Linked DNA regions of Homo sapiens: all the other regions are linked to region 3. The links come from fine-mapping of genetic effects on gene expression. A gene starts in region 3. Each other region holds a variant in brackets. All regions are shown on one strand. Distances are between the middles of the regions. Region 1 holds the start of DOT1L-AS1 (DOT1L antisense RNA 1). Region 2 overlaps DOT1L (DOT1 like histone lysine methyltransferase). Region 3 holds the start of AMH (anti-Mullerian hormone).

Region 1 (8,168 bases), 34 kb before region 3:
CAAGGGCTGCTCCCACCTCTTCCCTCTCAGTCTCAGCTGCTCTCTTCTCACCTGTGTTCCGCCTCTCTTCCCAGAGTCCTTCAAGATCCAGTACCTGCAGTTCCTGGCATACACAAAGACCCCCCAGTACAAGGCCAGCCTGCAGGAGCTGCTGGGCCAGGAGAAGGTGGGTCCTGGCCCCCTTGGCATTCCGCCTTCCCGCACAGAGGCAGTTCGTTCCTGTTCCTGGGCATCTGTCCCCTGTGGCAGAGGCCCTGGAGCGCAGGCCTGAGTGGGCTCCCTCCTCTGCTCACCTGCTGCGAGAAACAAACCTACCCGTTTAAACCCAAAGAATGGACTGAGAGACCCGGAAAACAGCGAAAATGAGACTTTTAATCATGGTTTTGCAAGACCTGGTGTCTGATAGGCACACCCAGCACAGTTTGAACAAGCAACCTTCCCCCTAGTGCACAGGTCCCTCCCCCGGTTCCTCAAAGGCTGAGTACTGTGAGGTCACAGTCTTCCCAGTTGTCGCCTATTGGTTCGGCAGGGGCTGGAGTGCAGTGGTGTGATCTCGGCTCACTGCAAACTCCGCCTCCCGGGTTCACGCCATTCTCCTGCCTCAGCCTCCCAAGTAGCTGGGACTACAGGCACCCACCACCACATCCGGCTAATTTTTTGTATTTTTAGTAGAGACGGGGTCTCACTGTGTTGGCCAGGATGGTCTTGATCTCCTAATCTCGTGATCCTCCCGCCTCGGACTCCCAAAGTGCTGGGATTACAGGCATGAGCCACCACGCCCGGTTGTAGGTGTTTTCTTTAGGGTTGTCCTGCTGCATTTTGTGCATTGCAATCCCAGTCAGCTCAGGGACTGTTCAAGTATTTGACTTATGATCTAAGTAGCTGGGCAGGCTGATTAAGAACAGACAAAGCCAGCTCTTTTGCAGGCTGGTAAACCTTCATCTTAGGCTAAACTTCTTTGGTTCGGGTGAGGGCAACTAAGCCGGGGGAAGCGGGGGCAGGGGAGGCTGACAAGCAGGCATCAGCGATCCAAGCAGGGGCCTAGTACATGCTGTCTCTTCTGTAGTTTGCTGACCTAAGCCAATTCAAGGCAGTTTGTCCTGGAAATGGACCACTGTATACATGATTTCCTTCACCTGAGGTCCCGGCTGTGGGGCCCCGCCCTGGGAGTCTCCGAGGACCTGCTTTAGTGGGGAGCTAGGGCCGGGCTATGGGGTGGAAGTTCTGGCGGCCCAGAGATAACTCCAAAAGCCATTGGAGCCACAAGGTCGGCTGTCCCTGAGCCCTGGTTTGCATTTTGGACTTTGGCTTTGCTTTTAAAAAAAAGCTTACAGCGTGCTTTGAGCATATATGCACATGCATTGCTCACTGTGTAGCTGACAGCATGCCTGGGCCGGGGCCCTGTTCTCTGCTGGTGTCTGAAGGTTGTCCTGTGTCAGTGGCTCCTGGGGTCTTCCCTTGGAGGTGGGCCTCCGGACACTGAGTGTTTGCTGTTACGCTGCAGAAGGCTTCCTTGCAGATCCATGTGAAAAGTCCATCCCCTGGTATTGCCTTGGGATAAACTCCTTGGCATTGGCCGGCCTCTGCGTGGCTGGGGGCGCTGCCCTGGCTGAGTCCAGGTGGGGTGGCAGGTGCAGTCCCTCCAGCTGGCGAGAGTTCTTTGCAGTGAACCTGATGCAGAGCTGGTCCCCTCCCGCCGTGGCCTGAGTATTTCTTGACATCTCAGCCCGGTGTGGGTCCCCTCAGGCATGTCTGTCCTTGAGCGTGTCTTCAGGAAGCATGAGAGGCAGGGCGTGGGCCCTCCCTGTGGGCCCTCAGTCACCTGCCCTGGCCCTTAGTCACCTGCCCTGTTTGTCCTACAGGAGAAGAACGCCCAGCTCCTGGGTGCGGCTCAGCAGCTCCTCAGCCACTGCCAGGCCCAGAAGGAGGAGATCAGGAGGCTGTTTCAGCAAAAATTGGATGAGGTAGTGGACCCCAGAGGGCAGGTGGCAGGTGGCAGCTGGGGCGCAGGCTGGGGTGGTCCATGTCCGTCGGTATGGCTTCCTGTGGCTTCCTGTCTATGCCTCTGTCCAGCTGTGTCCCAGGGGCTGGGCTGCAGGGGTGGTCATGCCTGGGGGCTTACTTCACCTTGGAGGCCACCAGCATGACCTCTCCCCCGCCCCATGTCCCCAGCTGGGTGTGAAGGCGCTGACCTACAACGACCTGATTCAAGCGCAGAAGGAGATCTCCGCCCATAACCAGCAGCTGCGGGAGCAGTCGGAGCAGCTGGAGCAGGACAACCGCGCGCTCCGCGGCCAGAGCTTGCAGCTGGTGGGTGCCGCGGCGCAAGGACAGGGACGTGGAACCAGAGGGGCCCTGCCTGGGCGGGTGTGTCCTCTGTGCGGGTGGGAGGCTCTGGAAGGCCCGCCTCTGTTGTGGGGTTTGTTCCCAGACGAATTGCGCCACCTGTGAAAGCTTGTCGAGCGCGTCACAGCAGGCAGGCCTGGGCCCCTCGGCTGGATGGTTTCTCAGCGGCCCTGGGTGTCATGGAGCCACACTCTGGCAGGCTCGAGGTGTGGGGTCATGCGAGCATCCCACCATCGTGGTGTGGGTGCTGGAGCTGCCTCATCTGTCCGTGGGGGGCCCCAGTCTCCGCGTGTTCCGCATCCTCAGCCTGCTATTCCAGAAACGGGGTCTGTGCCCTAAGCACACATGCTGTTGGCTGAGGCAGGCCCAGGGAACCCTGCCCTGAGAGTGTGGGGTGTGCTGGGCAGGCAGCCAGCCAGTCGCAACTGTCCCATCCCTATCCCCTCAGCTCAAGGCTCGCTGCGAGGAGCTGCAGCTGGACTGGGCCACGCTGTCGCTGGAGAAGCTGTTGAAGGAGAAGCAGGCCCTGAAGAGCCAGATCTCGGAGAAGCAGAGGCACTGCCTGGAGCTGCAGGTGGGCTGCGCGCGAGGCTGCACTCCGTGGTGTCCGAGCCTCTCCCATCAGCCTCCCTGTGACGTCGTTGAGCCTAGGGTGGTTGCGGTTGCAGCAGCCTAGGAAGAAGGTGGAGGAGGACAGTTGGGTGGAGGCTTATGGAACCTTCTGTCTTGGGCCGCAGGCTGCCCGTGTGGATGACTCTGCCTCACTCTAGCCCTCAGCTCTCGGGGGCATCTCGGGATTGCTTGGCTGAATGCGCAGCGCTAACCTAGGATTTCCTGATTTCCTGGCTGCCTCCTTGCAAATCATTTCTGTAACAGTCATAGGGGAGAATTTGCTCATTAGAAAAACAGCTGGATCGGTGCAGGGGCTTATGCCTGTAATCCCAGCACCTTGGGAGGCTGAGGCGGGCAGATCACCTGAGGCTAGGAGTTGGAGAACAGCCTGGCCAACACAGTGGGACTCTGTCTCTAGCAAAAATACAAAAATTAGCCGGGTGTGGTGGTGTGTGCCTATAGTCCC[A/G]GCTCCCAGGGAGGCTGAGGCAGGAGTTCTGGCTCCCAGGATGGCATCCCCAAGGGCCATATTGAGGCAAAAAGGGCCGTGTTTGAGCCCGGGAGGTGGAGGCTGCAGCAAGCTGAGATTGCACCACTGCACTCCAGCCTGGGTGACAGAGCCAGGCCCCATCTGAAAAATAAAATAGCTTGTACTTTCTGACACCGAGAAACGCATTCGTGGAGGCCGAGTAGAGGAAGTGTGGAGGAGGGTGTGCAGCGGGAAGGTGCTCTCCTCCCTGCTCCCAGGCAGAGGCAGGTGCTGGTGGGCGGTGCCCACAGCTGCCGTGCAGCCTAGAAAGCAGCAGGTCACGGGCTTTGTTCCCAGAGCCCCATCCCGTCGACACTGTGCCCGCCTGCTCACCTTACGTGTCCCCAGCGTGGTTTCACTGTTGATGGACCTGGTGCCCTGTCGCTGGACCTCTGCTGCCTTTTCAAATGACTGCACCAAACCGTTGCTGCAAGGCTGTCCCCGGAGGCGGGCTCTCACGGGCGGCTGACGGACGTCGGGAAGCACCACTCACGTGCTCCCGAGCTGCTCCCTCACGTGTGTGGCCCAGGCGAGCCTCACCAGCGTACATTAGAGAAACGGAGGTCGCCGACCTCTTTACCACAGCCGGGCCCTGTGGGTCTGCCTGGAGTAGAGCCCTCGGGAAGAGCATATTTGGGTTCTGACCATTTTTGTCATCATCTTTTCTGTGTAATAAAAAAACAATGTGTTTGTTAAAAGAAAGGAAAGCAGGTAAACAGAACAGATAAACTAAAAGGAAAAAGCCCCTCTCAGACTCAGCGCCCGGGGAAGCTGCCACGCTCGAGTGGCGTGTCCCTCCACAGGTTTTACACTTAGTGAAACTGGATGTTTTACACTTAGAGTCTATTTTGAGAGACGAGAGCTCTTTGTATCTTCCTGTTGCTCTTTTTGAAGAAGGTGCTTCCATGTCAGCAAAAACCATCCTCGGCCCTCCACATGACTTTATTTGACGCCCCCAGCTTCCCGACCCCGCCTCTATGTGGTCGGCAGCTTTGGTTTTTCCATCCCACACAAGCAGCGGGGGTCCTGGCCACCCCTCCGGGTGTCCATCTGTGGCAGTCTTGGTTCCCTGGAGTGGTCCCCCGGTGGGGCGGGCCTGACACCATCTCTCCTCCTGCAGATCAGCATTGTGGAGCTAGAGAAGAGCCAGCGGCAGCAGGAGCTCCTGCAGCTCAAGTCCTGTGTGCCGCCTGACGACGCCCTGTCCCTGCACCTGCGTGGGAAGGGCGCCCTGGGCCGCGAGCTGGAGCCTGACGCCAGCCGGCTGCACCTGGAGCTGGACTGCACCAAGTTCTCGCTGCCTCACTTGAGCAGCATGAGCCCGGAGCTCTCCATGAACGGCCAGGCTGCTGGCTATGAGCTCTGCGGTGTGCTGAGCCGGCCTTCGTCGAAGCAGAACACGCCCCAGTACCTGGCCTCACCCCTGGACCAGGAGGTGGTGCCCTGTACCCCTAGCCACGTCGGCCGGCCGCGCCTGGAGAAGCTGTCTGGCCTAGCCGCACCCGACTACACTAGGCTGTCCCCGGCCAAGATTGTGCTGAGGCGGCACCTGAGCCAGGACCACACGGTGCCCGGCAGGCCGGCTGCCAGTGAGCTGCATTCGAGGTGAGTGCCCTGGTGGGGCTGGGGGTCTGCAGCTGGTACCTGCCGACTCTGCCTGGTGTGCTCAGGCTGTCGGGTTCTCAGCAGGAGTGTGTTTGTTGAGGAGACTGAGGTGGGGAGGTGCTGGGCCAGGCCGCTGCCTCTGAGTGCCAGCCCACGGCCCTCGAGAGTGACTGCAGCTTCTCATTCCAGAGCTGAGCACACCAAGGAGAACGGCCTTCCCTACCAGAGCCCCAGCGTGCCTGGCAGCATGAAGCTGAGCCCTCAGGACCCGCGGCCCCTGTCCCCTGGGGCCTTGCAGCTTGCTGGAGAGAAGAGCAGTGAGAAGGTGCGGGCCGCGACCCCTGCCCCGGGCTCAGGGAGGTGCTCAGCAGAGGCGGCCTGAGCGAGTTGCTAGCAGGAGGGCTTGTCCTAGTTGACCTTGGGGCACGGTGAGGTACTGGGGCTGACCTGGAGTAGGATGTTGTGGCAGAGTTGGGGGCAACCAGTAAGGACAGGTCACAGGTGACGTTGGGCAGGTGCCATGGAGGACATGGGGTTTGTCAGGGTGTCCCTGATGCCTCTTAGTTCTCAGTGACGGACGGCAAGTGCTGGTAGAGACACAGAGCCCAGTTTGGGAGGCCGCTGCCCATGAGGACTTCCCCGGGGGCACTGGCCTGTGTGCACAGGGATGGAGAGGGAAGGACGGTGACGTTGCATGGACTTGGCAGTGATGGATGTGGGCCCTGGGAGGCTTGGTGGCCCCACGGGTGACTGCCCACCGAGCCGGGCGGGCAGGCTGGAGGGGACAGATGGGCATTGCTTTCAGACACCAGGAGCGTGCCGTCCCTCTGGAGTGTCCCAAAGCCGGTGTCCAGGAGGGCCTGACTGCGTGGGGAAGGTTGCAGGGCCTTGGCAGCGTGGGGGCCGCCTTGAGAGAGCTGTAGCAGGCCCCCGTCCTGTGGCTGTGGTCCCTGTGTCCTGGAGGGGTTTGTTGACCCACGACTGGGGGTCGGGCCTTCGTCTGCAGGGCCTGAGAGAGCGCGCCTACGGCAGCAGCGGGGAGCTCATCACCAGCCTGCCCATCAGCATCCCGCTCAGCACCGTGCAGCCCAACAAGCTCCCGGTCAGCATTCCCCTGGCCAGCGTGGTGCTGCCCAGCCGCGCCGAGAGGGCGGTGAGTGGCTCCCAGGTGGCTGTCCCCAAGGGCCACGTTGAGGCAAAACAGTCTGGGGTGCTCGAGACCTGGCTCACTTTGCGAAGTCTCACGCTGTAAAATGTCGAGCGTGAGGCAATGCAGTCAAGGTGGGCTGTCCAAAGCCGGGGCGTGTCCGGTGACCTGGGCCGTTGTTTTCGCCAGTCTTTTTCTTTTGGGTGAAAGGTACGTGTGCAAGTGGAGAGGGCCTCACACCTTCTGGGTTGAGGAGGAGCTCAGAGGCCCACCCTGGCTCCCAGCCTCACTCCTCACGAGGCCACATTGGCTGCCGTGGCCCCTGTCCTCACAGCTGCCTCTGGGTTCTCCCACCCAGCGCTGTGCATGCAGAGAATCTCGTCTTGTGTAGCATGGGCGGGATTTTCTGGGCATTGAACTATTTTTTAAAAATTGTGCGCTTCAAGTATATGCTTCAGTGGTTTTTAGCATTTATTTTTTATTTTTTATTTTTATTTTTCAGACGGAGTCTCACTCTGTCGCCCAGGCTGGAGTGCAGTGGTGCGATCTCGGCTCACTGCAAGCTCCACCTCCCGGGTTCACGCCATTCTCCTGCCTCAGCCTCCCGAGTAGCTGGGACTACAGGCGCCCGCCACCACGCCTGGCTAATTTTTTGTATTTTTAGTAGAGATGGGGTTTCACCGTGTTAGCCAGGATGGTCTTGATCTCCTGACCTAGTGATCCGCCCGCCTGGGCCTCCCAAAGTGCTGGGATTACAGGCGTGAGCCACGACGTCTGGCCTCTTTCTTTTTTTTTATTTTTCGAGATGGAGACTCATTCTGTCCCCCAGGCTGGAGTGCAATTGTGTGATCTCGGCTCACTGCAATCTCTGCCTCCCAGGTTCATGCCATTCTCCTGCCTCAGCCTCCCGAGTAGCTGGGATTACAGGTGCCCACCACCACGCCCGGTTAATCCCCGCCCCCACCAGCTGAGACGGAGTCTTGCTCTGTTGCCCAGGCTGGAGGGCAGTGGCACGATCTTGTGATCTTTACTCACTGCAGCCTCCGCCTGCTGGGTTCAAGCAGTTCTCCTGCCTCAGCCTCCCGAGTAGCTGGGATTACAGGCATGCACCACTATGCCCAGCTGATTTTTGTATTTTTAGTAGAGACAGGGTTTCACCATCTTGGCCGAGCTGGTCTCAAACTCCTGACCTCAGGTGATCTGCCCACCTCAGCCTCCGAAATTGATGGGATGACAGGCATGAGCCACCGCACCCGGCCAATTTTTGTATTTTTAATAGAGGTGGAGGTTTTGCCCTGTTGGCCAGGGTGGTCTCGAACTCCTGGCCTCAGTCGACCCACCCGCCTCGGCCTCCCACAGTGCTGGGATTCCAAGTGTCAGCCCCCGTGCCCGGCCGGTTTTTTGTACTTTTATACACCTCTGTCTAATTCAGGACATTTTCTTCACCCGGGAAAAAGCGTTGCCCGCCTCAGCAGTCACTCCCTAGTCGTCCCCCAGCCCCCGGGCCCCCGAACACGCTCATGTCTGGGCCTGTCCCTTCTCTTGGCACGTGAGGGCATTCCCTGTGTGGATGGAGTGTGCCATCTTCATCCGTGCCCAGTTGATGGACCCCGGCTTGATTCCCTGTTTTGGCGATTGTGAATCGTTCTGCTGTGAGCGCTGGGGTCCAGGTTTCTGTGTGGATGTAGGTTTGCTCTTTGGCCCATGTGGGAGTGGAGCTACTGGGTTCTGCGGTCACTCTACTGACCTTTGTTGGACTTGGAGTGTGGTGTGGGGAAGTGCAGTGGGTGGTGGCCGGCAGGTGTGTTCTCGCAAGCGCCCTCCTCACCCCACCCGACTGCTGGCATTTGTGCTGCTTGGAGAACACAGCCGCTTCCCGGTGAGGGCGGGCTGTGGGTTGCTTGGGTTGTGCCCAGTACCCCCTCCCCACAG
Region 2 (8,168 bases), 64 kb before region 3:
CAGGTGCCTATAGTCCCAGCTACTTTGGAGGCTGAGGCAGGAGAATAGCTTGAACCCAGGGGGCGGAGGTTGCAGTGACCCAAGATGGTGCCACTGCACTGCAGCCTGGGTGATAAGAGTGAGACTCCATCTCAAAAATAAATAAATAAATAAATAAATAATGCTCAGCTGGGCATGGTGGCTCACACCTGGAATCCCAGTGCTTTGAGAGGCTGGGAGGGTTGATCACTTGAATCCAGGAGCTGGAGATTGGCCGGGCAACATAATGAGACCCCAAGTCTACAAAAAAGTAAAAAATTAGCTGGGCATGGTGGTGCACACCTGTGGTCCCAGCTACTTGCGGGGCTGAGGTGGGAGGATCACTTGAGACCAGTGGCGCTGTGATTGTGCCACCGCCCTCCAGCCAGGCAACAGAGTGAGACCCTGTCTCAAGAAACAAAACCCAAACAAGAAAGAGTGCTCCAGGGCTGTGGCTTCCCGGGGCTGTGACTGTGCAGGTTCTGCCAGTGCTGCCCAGACGTGGTCTCTCTGGGTTAGGATCTCGGTGCAGCAGGGGTGGAAGCCCCTCTCTGACCAGGCGCTTGCTAGTGTGTCTGGAGGTGCTCAGCAGCAGGGGAGCTGCACCTGCTCCCCATGGGAAGGGGCCTGCACAGACTTCTGGGGTCAGAGGAGACCCCAGGCCCCCGGATCTCAGGCAGTGGCGGTGAGAGTGCCTCTCTGGCTGCATGCTCGCCTTCTGCAGGGCTCGGAGCTGACTGTCTTGTTTGAACCTTGTGTGTTTTCTGGGGAGCGCATCTGGAGTCTGGAGCTTAAGCGTTGTAGGGAGCAGGGTCCAGGCACAGGGGCGTGCACCAACACCTGGGCATCCGCGACGTAGGCAGAGACCTCGAAACTCGAACCCCCACCACCTGGAGAGGCTGCTTTCTCCCGTGCATCCCCAGCATGTGGCCAGGGTTCTCACGGTGTGGCTGCACAGACCTTTTCTGTCTCACTTCCTCTAGAAACACCGACGACGTTCTTACACAGCAAACACCATTCAGTCCCCATACGGCCAGTGTCCCAAGCACGTCCTCCCACAGTGGTGTTGTTTTTTTGAGTCAGCGTCTGGCTCTGCTGCTCAGGCTGGGGTGCAGTGGTGCCATCTCAGCTCACTGCAACTTCCACCTCCCAGGTTCAAGCAATTCTCCTGCCTCAGCCTCCCGAGTAGCAGGGATTACAGGTGCCTGCAACCACGCCCAGCTAATTTTTGTATTTTTAGTAGAGGCGAGGTTTTGCCACCTTGGCCAGGCTGGTCTCAAACTCCTGGCCTCAAGTGATCCACCCGCCTCGGCCTCCCGAAGTGTGGGGAGGGCTGTTGTTTAAAGATGATTGGGCTGTCCTAGGCTCTCCTCGTTTGGATGTCCGTTGAGAATCAGCCTTTCCATTTCTCCAGAAAAGCTAGCTGGGCTTTTTCTAGAAATTGGTTTGAGCCTGCAGTTCAGCTTGGGGAAAGGGGCGTTTAAACAGTGTCACTCCCAGGTATTCCTGCTTCAGTGCTTTTTTTTTTTTTTAAGGCGGAGTCTCACTCTGTTGCCCGGGCTGGAGTGTGGTGGCGCATCCTCGGCTCCCTGCAGCCTCCGTCTCCGGGGTTCAAGTGATTCTTCTTCCTCAGCCTCCCGAGTAGCTGGGATTAGAGGCGCCCGTCACCATGCCCAGCAAATTTTTGTGTTTTTAGTAGAGACAGGGTTTCACCATGTTGATCAGGCTGGTCTCGAACTCCTGACCTCGTGATCCGCCTGCCTCGGCCTCCCAAAGCACTGGGATTATAGGCATGAGCCACCACGCCCGGCCTTTGGTGCTTTTTTATGTGGCATTTTGACAATCCTTTGCTGCTAGTATGTGTAAAGACTGCTCCCTTTTGCCTATCGGCCATGCCCCTGCTGAGCTCTGGCGGTGTCCGCGCGTATTCCTCAGCACGCTCTGTGGCGCAGAACCACGGGACTGAGTGAAGACCGTGCGGCCGCTCCTTTCAGGCTCCTTGCTGCTTTGAGTGTTTTTCTTGCCGAGTTGCGCTGGCCGGAACCTCCTGGACAGTGTGATGAGAAGTGACTGCAGATGGCCTTGCTTGGGTTGCTCTCGGGGCCTCGCTCGGTGCCTGGGGCTTTTGATGATCTGCATTGTGAGGTCCCCTGCCGGTGTTGGCCAGGTGTGCAGGCGTTGACCATGCTGGGGACGGGTGACGAGAGGCACCAATAATCACAGAGGGCGGATGCCACAGCCCTTCTGACAGGATGCTGTGTCTTTCAGTGTGGAAGGGTCTTGGAGGGCACCCGGACCTGAGGTCAGGTCCTGGCCAGCTGGTTGGGGAGTCTGGGGACTTGGCGTGGGGTAGGGGGCAATGAAGCTACTCTCGGAGTTCTGGGAAGCTGCCCGCTGGACTTAGCAGGTCAAGAGGACTGGGGAGCAGAGGCCGAACCCCCATCCCTCCCTGACCCCTCCTGCAGAGCCGCAGGCCAGGTGGCTGCGGAAGGTGGGCCTGCTGCTGTCACAGCGGCTCAGTGACTGGTCCCGTGCCCTTTCCAAGCGGAAGGCGTGTCCTTCCATTTCTGGCCTCTTGGAGGGTACCGTCCTGATGGCACCGAATGCCGTCCTGTGGGCTTTCCGTACTCGCCCACACGGGGCTGCTCAGATCTCCGTCCTTGTTCCTTCGGTGAATTGCAGTGACTAATTTTAGAGTGAAGCAGCTTTTCCTCCCCAGGAGGTGCTGTGTGTGGTTGTGAGGTGCCGCTGCGGTTTCCTCACGTTTTTAAGGGATAGTGGGGTGTGTTGGTCAGGGATGTTGGTCAGCTGTTGCCTTTCTTGTCCTTTCTTTCCAGCCCTTTGCGTCTCTATGGTTTTGGTGTCAAGATGACGCTGGCTGCATAAAACTCTGAGAAAGTTTCTGTAGGTTTAGTGTTTGTCTTGTCAGTGTTTGATGGAATTCACCAGTGTGTTTTTGTATTTTGTATTTTTAGTAGAGACGGGGTTTCTCCATGTTGGTCAGGCTGGTCTCCAACTCCTGACCTCGTGATCTGCCCACCTCGGCCTCCCAGAGTGCTGGGATTACAGGTGTGAGCCACCGCACCCGGCACCAGTTGGCTTTAGTTTCTAGTCAGTCAGTTGCTTTTCGAGCTCTGATGTGGCCAGTGGGTCCCTAGACCAGCCCTGTAGCAGATAAGTTCACTTAGGTCCCCAGAGCCACTGGTGTGTGGCCTCGAAGCCACGTAATACCTGTGTGATTCAGTAACAGCTTCGTGGTAAACATCGTAGCCTTCGTTTTGAAGTCACGCCTCCCTTCTCTCTCCACTTTGAGTGGAGGGGTAAGGATGTTTGTTTTCTGTTGGAGAGGATGCAGTGTTTAAGAACATGCGGGGTAATACTCAAGATTGTTTACACCTGTCATCCCAGCACTGTGGGAGGCTGAAGTGGGCGGATCACTTCAGGTCAGGAGTTTGAGACCAGCCTTGCCAAAATGGCCTAACCCGGTCTCTACTAAAAATACAAAAATTAGCCAGGCGTGGTGGTGGGCACCTGTAGTCCCAGCTACTTGGGAGGCTGAGGCAGGAGAATCGCTTGAACCCAGGAGGCGGAGCTTGCAGTGAGCCAAGATCACGACACTGCACTCCAGCCTGGGCAACAGAGTGAGACTCCGTCTCAAAACAAAAACAAAAACAAAAACAAAACACAAAACAAAACAAAAAAAACCAAACCCTTCCTGATCGTTTCTGCTGCTGTGTTTCAGATGGGTCTGTGAAGAAATCCCGGATCTCAAGCTCGCTATGGAGAATTACGTTTTAATTGACTATGACACCAAAAGGTAAGCAGAGTCCTGTCCAGCCGCTCCGCTCCGAGGACAGACTCGGCTCTTGGGGAGGACAGGAGGACGCATCCTATAATTAGCTCTTCTTAGATGGTGCAAGCTGATCTGAAATTTCCTTTTAGAGTTGGCCGTGGCCACCATAAAGTTATTTTGGTAGGAAATGTTTATCAACTCTTGGCAAAGGCTGTCAGAGGCCGGACAGAATTGGAAACTCCGGTTGTGGAAAGTGGGATTGGCATGTGTGGAGTCAGCCCGCGCTAGTGATCGCTCTTTTTATAGCGGGCGGCTGACGGCCAGAAGTCCGC[G/A]TTCCTGCCTGAGGCTGCTGGGAGGGCCTGGGCGGCCTTAGGCTGCTTGGCAGCTCTGTTTAGATCTCAGCTGGGTTTGGTTAGTCCCTCTGTCTCCAGCCCTGTGGCTGCGTTAGCAATTTCGCCCTGGCAGCTCCTGGGTCTCGGAGGAGGGTCTTGTGGGTGGAGAGGGGCAGGGCTGTCTCTGGAATGCTTGCTTGGAAGTGTTTTGTTTTTCTTTGACAAGGAAGACATTCCAGGCTCATGCCTTTTTCAGCTCTTGAGTCTGAAATCAACAGAGTAGTCCTCCATCAAGGGCTGTGCTGTCGTGAGCTTAGGTGAGCCCCTCTCCACAGAGAGTCAAGCCCAGAGGGCCACGCGGCTGCACTTTACCTGGCTCTCCGGCCTCACTGGCATGTGGGAGGGACTCTTGTCTGGGGTCAGCGGTCTCAGCCTCAGTAAACCTCGAGATCCTGTGCCCCTCCCTCGAGCCCTGCCCATTCCCTGGTCAGCACCCTGGTGCCCCACAGGCAGACAAGCGTGTTGCTGGCAGGGTCCTGCGTGCCGACCTGCTGCTGTGGATTTCACGCCACCTGCCTCGCATGTCGGGGCCTCTCGCCACCCCCCCTCATTGGGCGTGATGGTGTGCTGGGCCCTTCCCTGGTTTAGTATGAAGAGTGTGATGCAGCGTGCAGATCAACAGCCGCATGGCAGGGTCCACAGGGAGGGGCCTGCAGGGCCCTGCACAGAGCTCTGTGTCCGTGGAGTTGGGGAGCACTAACCCCAAAGCTCTGCACCCTGTGCTTTCGGGTTTTCACGGAGGCTTCTCGGAGACTTGCTTGATGATTGCCTCCATCTCCAGTCCCCTCTTTCTAAGCTTCTTACCGCAGCTTGGGCTTTACCTCACCCAGGAGCCCCCCACAAGTCGCTTCCTTACAACAGAAGACACTCCTGTCACCTAGAAGTTCCCAGGGATCAGGAGCTTTGTTAGGAACTAGAGTCCCCTCGGATGAGTGGGTGTTGTCGGGCTGAGCCCTTTCACATTAACCTGGGGCAGTTATGGCACCTCACTTGTGTGTGGCCAGCTTCTGCCTTGGCTCTGAGCAGCGAGCGTGTCAGACGCTGTGCTCACGGCGCCCCTCCACGTGGGTGTGTGGCGTCCTTCCTCTTCGCGTGGGATGGGCTTAGCCAAGGCTGGAAGGACATCAGGGACAGGCTGGGCAGGGGGTCTTCGTTGGAGCTGGCAGGGCCACCTGAGGGACCGAGCCATTAGGGCTTCAGACCAAGGACAGCCCCAGCTCCTCTGAGCACCTGCATTTGCACAGCCTGCCAGGGAAGAGTCTCTTCCCAGGAGCGTGCAGAGGTGATTTTGGGAAGGTCTGGTTGTCAGGGTTGAAGGCGGCGTGTAGAAGTGGAAACACAGGGGCTGGGCACCGTGGCTCACACCTGTAATCCCAGCACTTTGGGAGGCCGAGGCGGATGGATCACGAGGTCAGGAGATCGAGACCATCCTCGCTAGCACAGTGAAACCCCGTCTCTACTAAAAATACAAAAAATTAGCCGGGCGTGGTGGCGGGTGCCTGTAGTCCCAGTTAGTCAGGAGGCTGAGGCAGGAGAATGGTGTGAACCCGGGAGGCGGAGCTTGCAGTGAGCTGAGATCGCGCCACCGCACTCCAGCCTGGGTGACAGAGCGAGACTCCATCTCAGAAAAAAAAAAAAAAAGGGAAGTGAAAAGACAGGAAGGGCCAGGGCTGCTCCTCTGGAGCTGCGGGGAAGGCGGGAGGCAGCAGGCCGGCTCTGTGGGTTCCTCCGGCCCGCATGGTGCCTGCTGGCCCTCTGCACCACCTGGGCTCCTTCCACCCCCGTGTCCTTCGTCCTCCGGAGGATCCAGGTCCTGTGTGGCCGTGCTCCCGGGGCTGTCGGCAGGCTCTTGTTCTTGGTGTTTGCTCCTCTTAAGTTCTCTTGCTTTATCCTATGCAGCTGCTGGTTAAGGAAAACATGAACTTGGCCTGTGGAGCACTGGTTTTCCTATGAGGAAGGGGAAGTGTGAACCTCGGCACATGCAGTGCCCAGGTGAATTCAGGGTGGCCAGGGCAGGGCAGGAAGAGCATGGGGCTGGGGCTGGGGTGGGAGCAGGGGTGTGATTGTTTAGCCACGTCTCGGAGCATCTGCCAGGCTCTTGGGGTTGCCATTGGGAGGAAACTGCTTGCGTGCACGTGGAGGTGGCGGAGGACGGAGGCGGAGGAAAGAGTCCCCAGCCGCCGCCCCCCCCCCCCCCACCCGCACAGGTGCAGGCCCCCTCGGCGCTGGGGATGTGGAAGTCGGATTGTTCTCTGGGAGGGGCCGTCCTGGGCACTGCAGGGTGCCGAGCAGGGTCCCTGCCTCCATCTCTTGCTTGCCTCGCCACATTCCTGGGGTCCCCGGTGAGAGCCACTGTGTGTGACAGTGTTCACTGGACAGGTACGCCTCCTCCTCCTGTCTCTTGCTCTGCTCTGGACACCTTCTGAGGTGGAGGGACAGACGCTGTTGTCCACATTTTGCCAGTGGGTCCAACAGACTTGGAAGATGAGCAAGTTATCCCAGGTGGAGACTGGACAGACTAGGCCAGGCAGACCCCGTAGCAGGCTTGCCCCCACCCCGGAAGCCCCTCTGAGCCCAGGCCTGGCTGGGCCGCGTGGCCGGTGTTTCTTGTGGCTCACGTGCCCCACAGACAGTGGGCACTCCCTGGAGCACAGGTGCCCCCTGCCCTCTGGTGGGCTCTGCCCCGATGCTGTTGGGTTGTGGGCACTTAGGTAATGAGGGTTTGCCTTGCGGCCAGGGCAAGGAGGGCAGAGTTGCTGCGGGGGGACTGAGTCTCACTGTGGACCCTGCTGTGCCGTGTCTGACATGACACACTGCTGACGTGACACACTGCTGACGTGACACACTGCTGACATGACACACTGCTGACGTGTGAATGAGTTGGAGCTTTGGAAGGACACGCTCACAGAGCAGTGTGGGTGGGGGTGAGGCATCTTCCTTTCTGCAGTGCTCACTCCTCCTGCACCTGCCCGGGCAGAGGCCTGGTGGTCCCTGGGAGACCCCAGCCGTTCACCTGCCTCTGGCGATGGTGGCTGTCCCCAGCCAGGGCAAGGAAGACCCTCTAAGGCCGGCCCCAGGGTTTCCCACTTGGGGGGCTGGCCTCAGTCCCCCTCGAGCCCTCTTTCTCTCCTCACGCCTCCAGCACACGTGGACCTCGGCTTTGCGCGGGAGCCTGGGCAGGTCCAGACTGCCTCAGGGCTCAGTGCTTCCCTGCACCGGACTCTCGGCCGGCCACCTCGCTTGTGTGTCAAACCTGAAATCTCCTGCATCAGGGCGGAAAGCGAGGCTTCTGCCAGAAGGGTCTTGGCCAGCTGGCTGGTGGCTGTCCAGGCAGGGACCACACCTTGGAGCCTGCCTTATCCACATGCTGTCCCCTCCCATGCATGCGGCTGGCTCCTGCCCGCATGACCAGGGCCTTCCCTTGCCTTTTTCAGCTTCGAGAGCATGCAGAGGCTCTGCGACAAGTACAACCGTGCCATCGACAGCATCCACCAGCTGGTAGGTGGCTTGCCCCTGCCCAGAGGGGGTTAGTAGTGCCAGGCTCCCGGACCCCTCCAGACCCCTTATGTCACCGCCTCGGGGCACAGAGCTCCCCTTAGAGCCCCTGGGGATTGGAATGTGCAGCGTGGGGGGACGATGGGCTGTGGGTGAGTGGTGTGGGGGCTGCCGAGGCTGGGCTGTGTGCTGTGGCCGTGTGCCAAAGCAGAGCCGTCCGTGGTTTGTGTGCTGAGGCAGGGCCCTGAGGGTTGTGGTGTCTGCACACGCCTCTGCAGCCCTGGGTTGGTGTCCGCAGGTCCCAGCAGAGGCGGGGTCCCTGTCCTCCCCGGGCTGTGTGAATGCCGGCCTTCCCCCTTGGACCTCCCCCACACCGCCTGCCTTCATCAGGCTGGATGCCGGCCTGGGCTGCACCCTTGGGCACCCCGGTCCTGCTGTGTCTCGTGAGGCTTTCCTCACAGAGGACGGGG
Region 3 (8,157 bases):
GTTAACCTTGAAGCCTTTGAAGGAGGACAGGGAGAAGCGGCTGTTAGAGGCAGCTCCTCCCGGACCCTCAGCAGTGGGAATGGCTAGAGGTGACCCCGGTTCAGAAAGCTGGGGAAGTGACCAGGGTGGAAGATAGAGACTTGTGTCCATAGGGTTCAGGAAGGCGGGCACGCTACCCAGCAAGTGTTCTTTACAGAAGGCGGGGACAGCCTGTGTGCCTGGCCTCCAGACAGAAGCCTGCAGGGCAGAGGTCCCGGGGCAGGTGCACCGGGTGGGCGAGGGTGGCTAGAGCGGCAGGCTCCTGGTGGGGAGGCCCTGACAGGTCCTGGGCTTGGGCTCAGGACGGTGAGGCGGCAGAGGGCTTGTGAGTGTGCGTGTCTGAGGCCGCATGGAGAGTGGCCGGGCGGCAGGCAGCCCAGCAGCCATTCTCGGGGTCCAGGCTGCTGAGCTCTGGCGGGAAGGGCATCCTCTCTCGCTCACCGTATACATGGTGTCAGCCCTGTTCAGGCGGCCCCGCTCGAATCCCAGAGCCAGGGTGCCGAGGGCCCCTCCCTACCCAGTGGCCCCAACTCCTGCTGGGTGGTATCCCAGCACCCCTGGTGAAGGGCTCTGGGGATTGGGACAAAGGAGCACCATCCTCGGTCCCTGCCTGAGTGACTCCGCAGGTAGCTCAGCTCTGGCGCACCTGTGCCTTCACCTATACCAGAATCCCAGAGCCTGGGCGGAGATTGTCTAATGGTTGCCAGAGCTGCAGGGCCTCCCCCGGGGTCCCGCTCTCGTTCAGTGGGTGGCATTAGCCTGCCCCAGGTTCCTCAGCTTCGGAGAGGACAAGCAGCCGGGACCTGAGAGCTTTCTGTGTTGCAGTGACCAAGCAGAGAGACTCGGAGATGGGCCAGCAGAGCCTCCTCTTCCAGGTGAGATCAGGGACTTGGGCGTGGGGGGCGGCCAAAGGCACCCAAGAGGCGGCTCTGCCACCCGGCCGTGTCCCTGCAGATTGACTACCCTGAGATCGCCGAGGGCATCATGCCACGTCACCGCTTCATGTCTGCGTACGAGCAGAGGATCGAGCCTCCGGACCGGCGCTGGCAGTACCTGCTCATGGCCGCCGAGCCCTACGAGACCATTGCCTTCAAGGTAGCGTGGCTGCGGGGTTCCCTGGGCCCCCTTGAGATGTGCAAGCCAGAAGGATCTGCATAGGCTGGGCAGGATGCCCCTCCCATCGGGCTTGGGGTCCCCTGGGCCCCCCCCAAGTCGGAGCCAGAAGGGTCTGCACAGGCCGGGCAGGGCACCTCTCCCATTGGGCTCTGCAGGAGGGCCTGCTTGGGCTCCACTGGGCCAATGAGAAGGGAGGCCGGCAGGGCTGAGCGCCAGGCCTGTGAGGCCTTTGCCAAGTGACCTCACTTCCTGGGCCAGGCTGCTGGAGGGCTTCCTACAGCCTGTCCCCATGCCTGGACAGGGCGGCCATCAGGAAACAAATAATACAAACGGTGACTGCCCAGGGAGGGGGCCAACAGCGTGCTAGCATTGAGGCCAGGTCTGTTTCACTCCAGAACTGAACCCTGTGCCCCACGAAAGTCTTACCAGCCTTCTCCTGGGCTCCCAGGGTAGAGTCCGGGCTGGGGAGGCTAGTGCCTCGGGCTCCCTGCCTGATGGTCGCCCTGAGGTCACAGGGACCAGGAGCCCTCTCTGTCCCCCGCCCTCCCAGGTGCCGAGCAGAGAGATCGACAAGGCGGAGGGCAAGTTCTGGACACACTGGAACCGGGAGACCAAGCAGGTGAGTGGCTCGCCCCGAGCCTGGCTCCTTCCCACCCAGCCCTGGCGGCCCTAGCCCTGCCCTAGCCCCACCCGTGCCTGCTGAACCTTTCTCCGTCTCTCTAGTTCTTCCTCCAGTTCCACTTTAAGATGGAGAAGCCCCCGGCTCCACCCAGCCTCCCTGCTGGCCCCCCTGGGGTGAAGCGGCCTCCACCCCCGCTGATGAACGGTCTGCCCCCTCGGCCACCGCTGCCTGAGTCTTTGCCACCGCCCCCGCCAGGAGGCCTGCCTCTGCCACCCATGCCCCCCACAGGGCCTGCGCCCTCAGGGCCCCCGGGACCACCCCAGCTACCCCCGCCAGCTCCAGGGGTCCACCCCCCGGCCCCAGTGGTGCATCCCCCTGCATCTGGGGTCCATCCCCCAGCTCCTGGCGTCCACCCCCCAGCTCCTGGCGTCCATCCCCCAGCCCCTGGGGTCCACCCACCAACCTCTGGGGTCCACCCCCCAGCTCCTGGAGTCCACCCTCCAGCCCCCGGGGTTCACCCACCAGCCCCCGGAGTCCACCCACCAGCCCCTGGGGTTCACCCACCAGCCCCAGGGGTCCATCCTCCCCCATCAGCGGGGGTTCACCCCCAGGCCCCGGGGGTGCACCCAGCAGCCCCCGCCGTTCACCCTCAGGCCCCAGGGGTGCACCCACCAGCCCCAGGGATGCACCCTCAGGCCCCGGGGGTCCACCCCCAACCTCCCGGGGTCCATCCGTCGGCTCCTGGGGTCCACCCTCAGCCTCCGGGAGTTCACCCCTCAAATCCTGGGGTGCACCCCCCAACTCCCATGCCCCCAATGCTGAGGCCCCCACTTCCCTCCGAAGGCCCAGGGAACATACCTCCCCCTCCCCCAACCAACTGAGAAGCTGCTCCCTCCCCCAGCAAGCCCAGCGCCAGGTGCTCTTGCCTTTTCCCACTGAGAGAAGGCTGCTCTTTTGTACTGCCCCCCGCTCATTAAACAGCCTCCCCCAGCCCTGAGTGCACTGATGTCCGCAGCGCCGCCCTACTGTGTCAGTGTGTGTGGGAGTGCCAGGCACAGCACCATCCCCCAGTTTGGGCCGACTGGGGAGGGCCTGGGGCCCGCCAGGAGACACCTGTGGGAGGCCTGAGAGATGGCTGTACCTTGGAGATGGCCTGGTGGAGGACAGACCCCACCAGCCAGCTAGGAGGGGATCTGGGGTCCTGTTCTGGGGAGGGAAGAGCAGACTCCACGATATCCTTGGGGTCTCCAGATAGCCCACCAGGGGTGGGGAGGGTGAGCAGGGACAGGGCGCCCCCACTGACTTGGGACCCTCCTCCTCCAGGCCCACACCTCAGCACCCAGGACATCTGGGCCCCCCGCCCCCAGCGCTGTCTAGTTTGGTTGCCTGGCCGTCACTCCCAGCCTGGTTCCCACTCCTGTGTCTTCTGGGGATGGCCCTCAAGGACGGCATGTTGACACATCAGGCCCAGCTCTATCACTGGGGAGGGAGATAGGCTGCCAGGGACAGAAAGGGCTCTTTGAGAAGGCCACTCTGCCTGGAGTGGGGGCGCCGGGCACTGTCCCCCAAGGTCGCGGCAGAGGAGATAGGGGTCTGTCCTGCACAAACACCCCACCTTCCACTCGGCTCACTTAAGGCAGGCAGCCCAGCCCCTGGCAGCACCCACGATGCGGGACCTGCCTCTCACCAGCCTGGCCCTAGTGCTGTCTGCCCTGGGGGCTCTGCTGGGGACTGAGGCCCTCAGAGCAGAGGAGCCAGCTGTGGGCACCAGTGGCCTCATCTTCCGAGAAGACTTGGACTGGCCTCCAGGCAGCCCACAAGAGCCTCTGTGCCTGGTGGCACTGGGCGGGGACAGCAATGGCAGCAGCTCCCCCCTGCGGGTGGTGGGGGCTCTAAGCGCCTATGAGCAGGCCTTCCTGGGGGCCGTGCAGAGGGCCCGCTGGGGCCCCCGAGACCTGGCCACCTTCGGGGTCTGCAACACCGGTGACAGGCAGGCTGCCTTGCCCTCTCTACGGCGGCTGGGGGCCTGGCTGCGGGACCCTGGGGGGCAGCGCCTGGTGGTCCTACACCTGGAGGAAGGTATGTGGGGCCCAGCCCCAAGCTTGGCACCGCCGTCTTCCTTCAGGTGGGCCGGGTCCTCCTAGGGAAGATCAGGGGCTGGCAGAGCCCCCACCCTGGGCAGGGAGGCTGTGGTCTTGTTCCTAGGACTGGGTTGCGGGTCCGTGGCCTGGAAGGTGGGCACCACACTCTGTCCTGTCCCCGAAGCCCAGCTCTTAGACTTGCCCCTGCCTCGGTGCCAGGGAGAGAGCTGCTGCCTTCTCCCCACCCCTGAAGACGACGCAGGGCTCGGGGCCAGTGGAACCCTTCTTCCCACAGCCCCAGCCTGTTCTCAGGGCCGCTGGCCTAAGATACTCCCTGCGGGGAAGGGGCTTCATCGGGCACCCCAACCCAGAGACCCCAGGGCGGCAGCCCCACCCACAGCCTCAGACGCAGCCCCTGCCTGCCCCTGCCGTCACCGCTCCCTGGCTGCAGGAAGGCAGCTAAGAGGGGCACCCTTGTCCCCCGCTTGAGGTCCCCTGCACAGTGGCCAGAGCGGCAGGGACAGATCCCAAAGATTCCCGGGGGGTGTGGCCTTCAATGGCTCAGGCGTCCCCTGCTGTCCCGGCTGCAGTGACCTGGGAGCCAACACCCTCGCTGAGGTTCCAGGAGCCCCCGCCTGGAGGAGCTGGCCCCCCAGAGCTGGCGCTGCTGGTGCTGTACCCTGGGCCTGGCCCTGAGGTCACTGTGACGAGGGCTGGGCTGCCGGGTGCCCAGGTACCAGGGAGTTGCATGGGGCAGTGCCCGGGCCGTGGCGGGGGGCATGGATTTGTTGCAGGGTCTGCAGTACTGAGAACAGCGTAGAACCAGTGGCGATGGGAGGAAGGGGACCGGTAGAGCGGGGCTGGGTAAGCCTCCATCCAGCCGGGCTGAGCCCTGGTCTCCGCAGAGCCTCTGCCCCTCCCGAGACACCCGCTACCTGGTGTTAGCGGTGGACCGCCCTGCGGGGGCCTGGCGCGGCTCCGGGCTGGCCTTGACCCTGCAGCCCCGCGGAGAGGGTAGGTCCGCGTGGAGAGGGACGGGGAGCCGGGTCGACTGCCCCCGGGCCCCCAGCCCCTGAGCCAGCCGCGTGCCCACCCACCGCAGACTCCCGGCTGAGTACCGCCCGGCTGCAGGCACTGCTGTTCGGCGACGACCACCGCTGCTTCACACGGATGACCCCGGCCCTGCTCCTGCTGCCGCGGTCCGAGCCCGCGCCGCTGCCTGCGCACGGCCAGCTGGACACCGTGCCCTTCCCGCCGCCCAGGTGCGCGCAGGCACCGGGACACGGGGCAGGAGCGGGCGGGGGCGGCGTGGCCTCGTGGCCGCTCTCAACTCCTCCAATTGCGGGTTCCAGGCCATCCGCGGAACTCGAGGAGTCGCCACCCAGCGCAGACCCCTTCCTGGAGACGCTCACGCGCCTGGTGCGGGCGCTGCGGGTCCCCCCGGCCCGGGCCTCCGCGCCGCGCCTGGCCCTGGATCCGGACGCGCTGGCCGGCTTCCCGCAGGGCCTAGTCAACCTGTCGGACCCCGCGGCGCTGGAGCGCCTACTCGACGGCGAGGAGCCGCTGCTGCTGCTGCTGAGGCCCACTGCGGCCACCACCGGGGATCCTGCGCCCCTGCACGACCCCACGTCGGCGCCGTGGGCCACGGCCCTGGCGCGCCGCGTGGCTGCTGAACTGCAAGCGGCGGCTGCCGAGCTGCGAAGCCTCCCGGGTCTGCCTCCGGCCACAGCCCCGCTGCTGGCGCGCCTGCTCGCGCTCTGCCCAGGTGGCCCCGGCGGCCTCGGCGATCCCCTGCGAGCGCTGCTGCTCCTGAAGGCGCTGCAGGGCCTGCGCGTGGAGTGGCGCGGGCGGGATCCGCGCGGGCCGGGTCGGGCACAGCGCAGCGCGGGGGCCACCGCCGCCGACGGGCCGTGCGCGCTGCGCGAGCTCAGCGTAGACCTCCGCGCCGAGCGCTCCGTACTCATCCCCGAGACCTACCAGGCCAACAATTGCCAGGGCGTGTGCGGCTGGCCTCAGTCCGACCGCAACCCGCGCTACGGCAACCACGTGGTGCTGCTGCTGAAGATGCAGGTCCGTGGGGCCGCCCTGGCGCGCCCACCCTGCTGCGTGCCCACCGCCTACGCGGGCAAGCTGCTCATCAGCCTGTCGGAGGAGCGCATCAGCGCGCACCACGTGCCCAACATGGTGGCCACCGAGTGTGGCTGCCGGTGACCCCTGCGCCGCGCGGACTCCTGCCCCGAGGGTCCGGACGCGCCCCAGCTCGCGCCCCTTCCCATATTTATTCGGACCCCAAGCATCGCCCCAATAAAGACCAGCAAGCAACCGGCTGGGGTGTCCGTGCGTGTTAGGGGGCCCGTGGGACCTCCCTTGCCGTCTCTCCTCGCGCACGGCCCGGGTCCGCCCTGTAGCGCTCGCTGTCTCTCCCCTGCCTGAAGCGCCCCACCACCGTCTTTCAGGCCCCGGACTTGGTGCCGGGTCCAGGCGTAAAGGAGCAGGTGACTCTGCGGCCGCAGCACTCGCTTTATTTCGCCAGAGTCGCGGGGCGTCCAGAAGGGGCCCCTGGACTCCGGCGCGGGGCCGGCTCAGTCCCGCCCCTTGCCTGCGCGGAGCTTCTGGCGACTCCCAGGCCGCTGCTCCTCGTCGGGACGCCTCGGGGACACCCAGGCCTGCTTCTTCCTGGGCTCGGCGTCCCTGGAGTCCCGTGCCCACGGCCGGTGGCCCCCTTCGCGTGACTCCCAGCGCTGGGGTAGGGCTTCCCGGGGCTCCCTGGCGGCCCGTGGCCTCTCCTCTTTCCGCGGCCTCTCTTTCTTAGGTCTCTCCTCCTTCCGCGGCTTCTCCTTCCGCGGCTTCCCCTCTCTCCGAGGCCTCTCCTTGGGTCCCCGGTCTGCGAGGGTCACACGGTCCTCCCGGACGGCCTCTCCGGTGGCCTCGCCGGGCTCCTCTTCGTCGTTCTCTGCAGCCTCCCGACTCCCGGGAATCTTGGGTCTGACCTCTGCCTCGGCCCGGGGCGCAGGCGGCGCTGATGGAGGCGCCTGGGCCTCGAACTTAGGCTGCAAGACAGAGTGGGGTCCTGGGGTAAGCGCCCACCTTCCCCCCGGCCCGGGCTCCTTCTTTCCTTGGGGATGAAGGTCCCAATGCCCGCGGTCAGTGGAAGGAAGCTCTTACCAGGGGCGACGATGGCTCCCTCGGGGCTGAGCTTGGCGGGACCCAGGGCTCGGGCACACGTGCTTGGAGTGCTGCCTCCCCAGGGACGGCGTCTGCAGCGACAGGGTCGGGACCCGAGTCAGCTGGGCCGAGGCACGGTCCACACTGTCCATCCCTCCCTCACCCCTAGAGCCCCCCTCCCTGGACAGTTGGAGTGGGGCTCCCCCGGTACGGCTGAGACTAAGGATGCCCCCGAGCCGTGGGAAGGGACTCCGGGACTCCGCTGCCGCGGCGCCCCTTCTCCGAACCTCGCTCTTTCAATTGGTCATTCTTCCCCCCGACCACGGGCTGTAGGAGGCCCCTAGCAAGGGAGGGGTCGCAGGAGTGCCCCCGGGGGGCGCTCACGAGCTGAGCGGTCCCCAGAGAGGGCGCAGGGGAAAGGCGGCAGAACGCTACGAGGCAGGAGGGGTTGCACAAGGTTCATCCGGAAGCCAGAACCTACTCGCGGCGAGGGGAATGGGCCCCGCAAAAGGTCCACACCGGGTGAGAGGGGCGCGCAAGGCCCGTCACTTAAGGGGAGATGCACAAACCAACTTTGGGGGCGTGCAAGACCCAGCCCTGGAGAGGAGGCTCCCAGACCCCACCCTGGCGGCACAGCGCCTTTCCTTGGAGGAATAGGCGCACAGGTGGACCCCAGCCTCGCCCCACCTCTGGGGAGCCTGCGCTCACCGCGGCACAGCTGGAAAGCCGAGCCCAGCAGCGCCACCAGCGAGGCGAGCACCAGGCACTTGTTGAGCGACAGGTCTCCCCAGGGCAGCTCCTCGCTCAGGGCCGGGGGCGGCGGCGGCGGCTGCAGGGGCGGCGCGGTCTGCGCCTTCTTGCGCGCGGGGACGCTCCGAGGGCCTGCGGGGGCAAGTGCGCGCTGCGCTGTGGTCACTGGCTCTGTGCCGCCCCCTTCCCCGGGCGCAGGGGACAAGAGACAGGCCTGTGCCCTGAACCCGGCTCTCTCTGCCTGCCTGTGCGGCCCCGGGCGCAGGTGAACCCAGCCCCGGGTGCCCCGCAGCTGCACGGGGATGCCTAGAGTTTCTGGAAGGTAACTTCCCGGAGCTGAGTGGCATAGCTGGTATTATTACGCATTAGTAGAGGCTCCCTGCC

Evidence for each region. PIP is the estimated chance that this variant, and not a neighbour inherited with it, causes the effect.
Region 1: its variant is the best candidate, but not a certain one, in a credible set for the expression of AMH in prefrontal cortex (ROSMAP, PIP 0.85).
Region 2: its variant is the best candidate, but not a certain one, in a credible set for the expression of AMH in prefrontal cortex (ROSMAP, PIP 0.66).

The regions. Positions count from the first base shown.
Region 1 is chr19:2,211,677-2,219,844 of GRCh38, forward strand. DOT1L (DOT1 like histone lysine methyltransferase) reads left to right here. Exons shown (of 28, transcript NM_032482.3): 16 at 75-166; 17 at 1,863-1,964; 18 at 2,173-2,310; 19 at 2,795-2,920; 20 at 4,605-5,089; 21 at 5,279-5,414; 22 at 6,096-6,242. It overlaps DOT1L-AS1 (DOT1L antisense RNA 1), which reads right to left and starts at 3,889. Exons shown (of 2, transcript XR_007067087.1): 1 at 3,818-3,889; 2 at 352-3,018. The variant A/G (reference allele first, on the strand shown) is at 3,425.
Region 2 is chr19:2,182,095-2,190,262 of GRCh38, forward strand. DOT1L (DOT1 like histone lysine methyltransferase) reads left to right here. Exons shown (of 28, transcript NM_032482.3): 3 at 3,761-3,835; 4 at 7,638-7,701. Among named protein-coding and RNA genes, the nearest start is that of DOT1L, 22 kb to the left of the region's middle. RefSeq lists enhancers at 652-811, 1,002-1,091. The variant G/A (reference allele first, on the strand shown) is at 4,144.
Region 3 is chr19:2,245,889-2,254,045 of GRCh38, forward strand. It overlaps AMH (anti-Mullerian hormone), which reads left to right and starts at 3,435. Exons shown (of 5, transcript NM_000479.5): 1 at 3,435-3,856; 2 at 4,449-4,591; 3 at 4,764-4,872; 4 at 4,961-5,120; 5 at 5,211-6,185. The coding sequence starts at 3,445. The coding sequence ends at 6,069. SF3A2 (splicing factor 3a subunit 2) reads left to right here. Exons shown (of 9, transcript NM_007165.5): 6 at 865-914; 7 at 994-1,134; 8 at 1,706-1,774; 9 at 1,879-2,767. The coding sequence ends at 2,658. It overlaps JSRP1 (junctional sarcoplasmic reticulum protein 1), which reads right to left. Exons shown (of 7, transcript NM_144616.4): 5 at 7,732-7,905; 6 at 7,024-7,115; 7 at 6,364-6,908. The coding sequence ends at 6,441. MIR4321 (microRNA 4321) reads left to right here and starts at 4,751; the gene lies at 4,751-4,830. RefSeq lists enhancers at 1-192, 446-1,523, 822-1,323, 3,378-3,517, 7,474-7,683, promoters at 446-3,444, 1,379-3,413, 3,165-3,444, 3,235-3,444, 3,413-3,444 and a silencer at 4,758-4,817.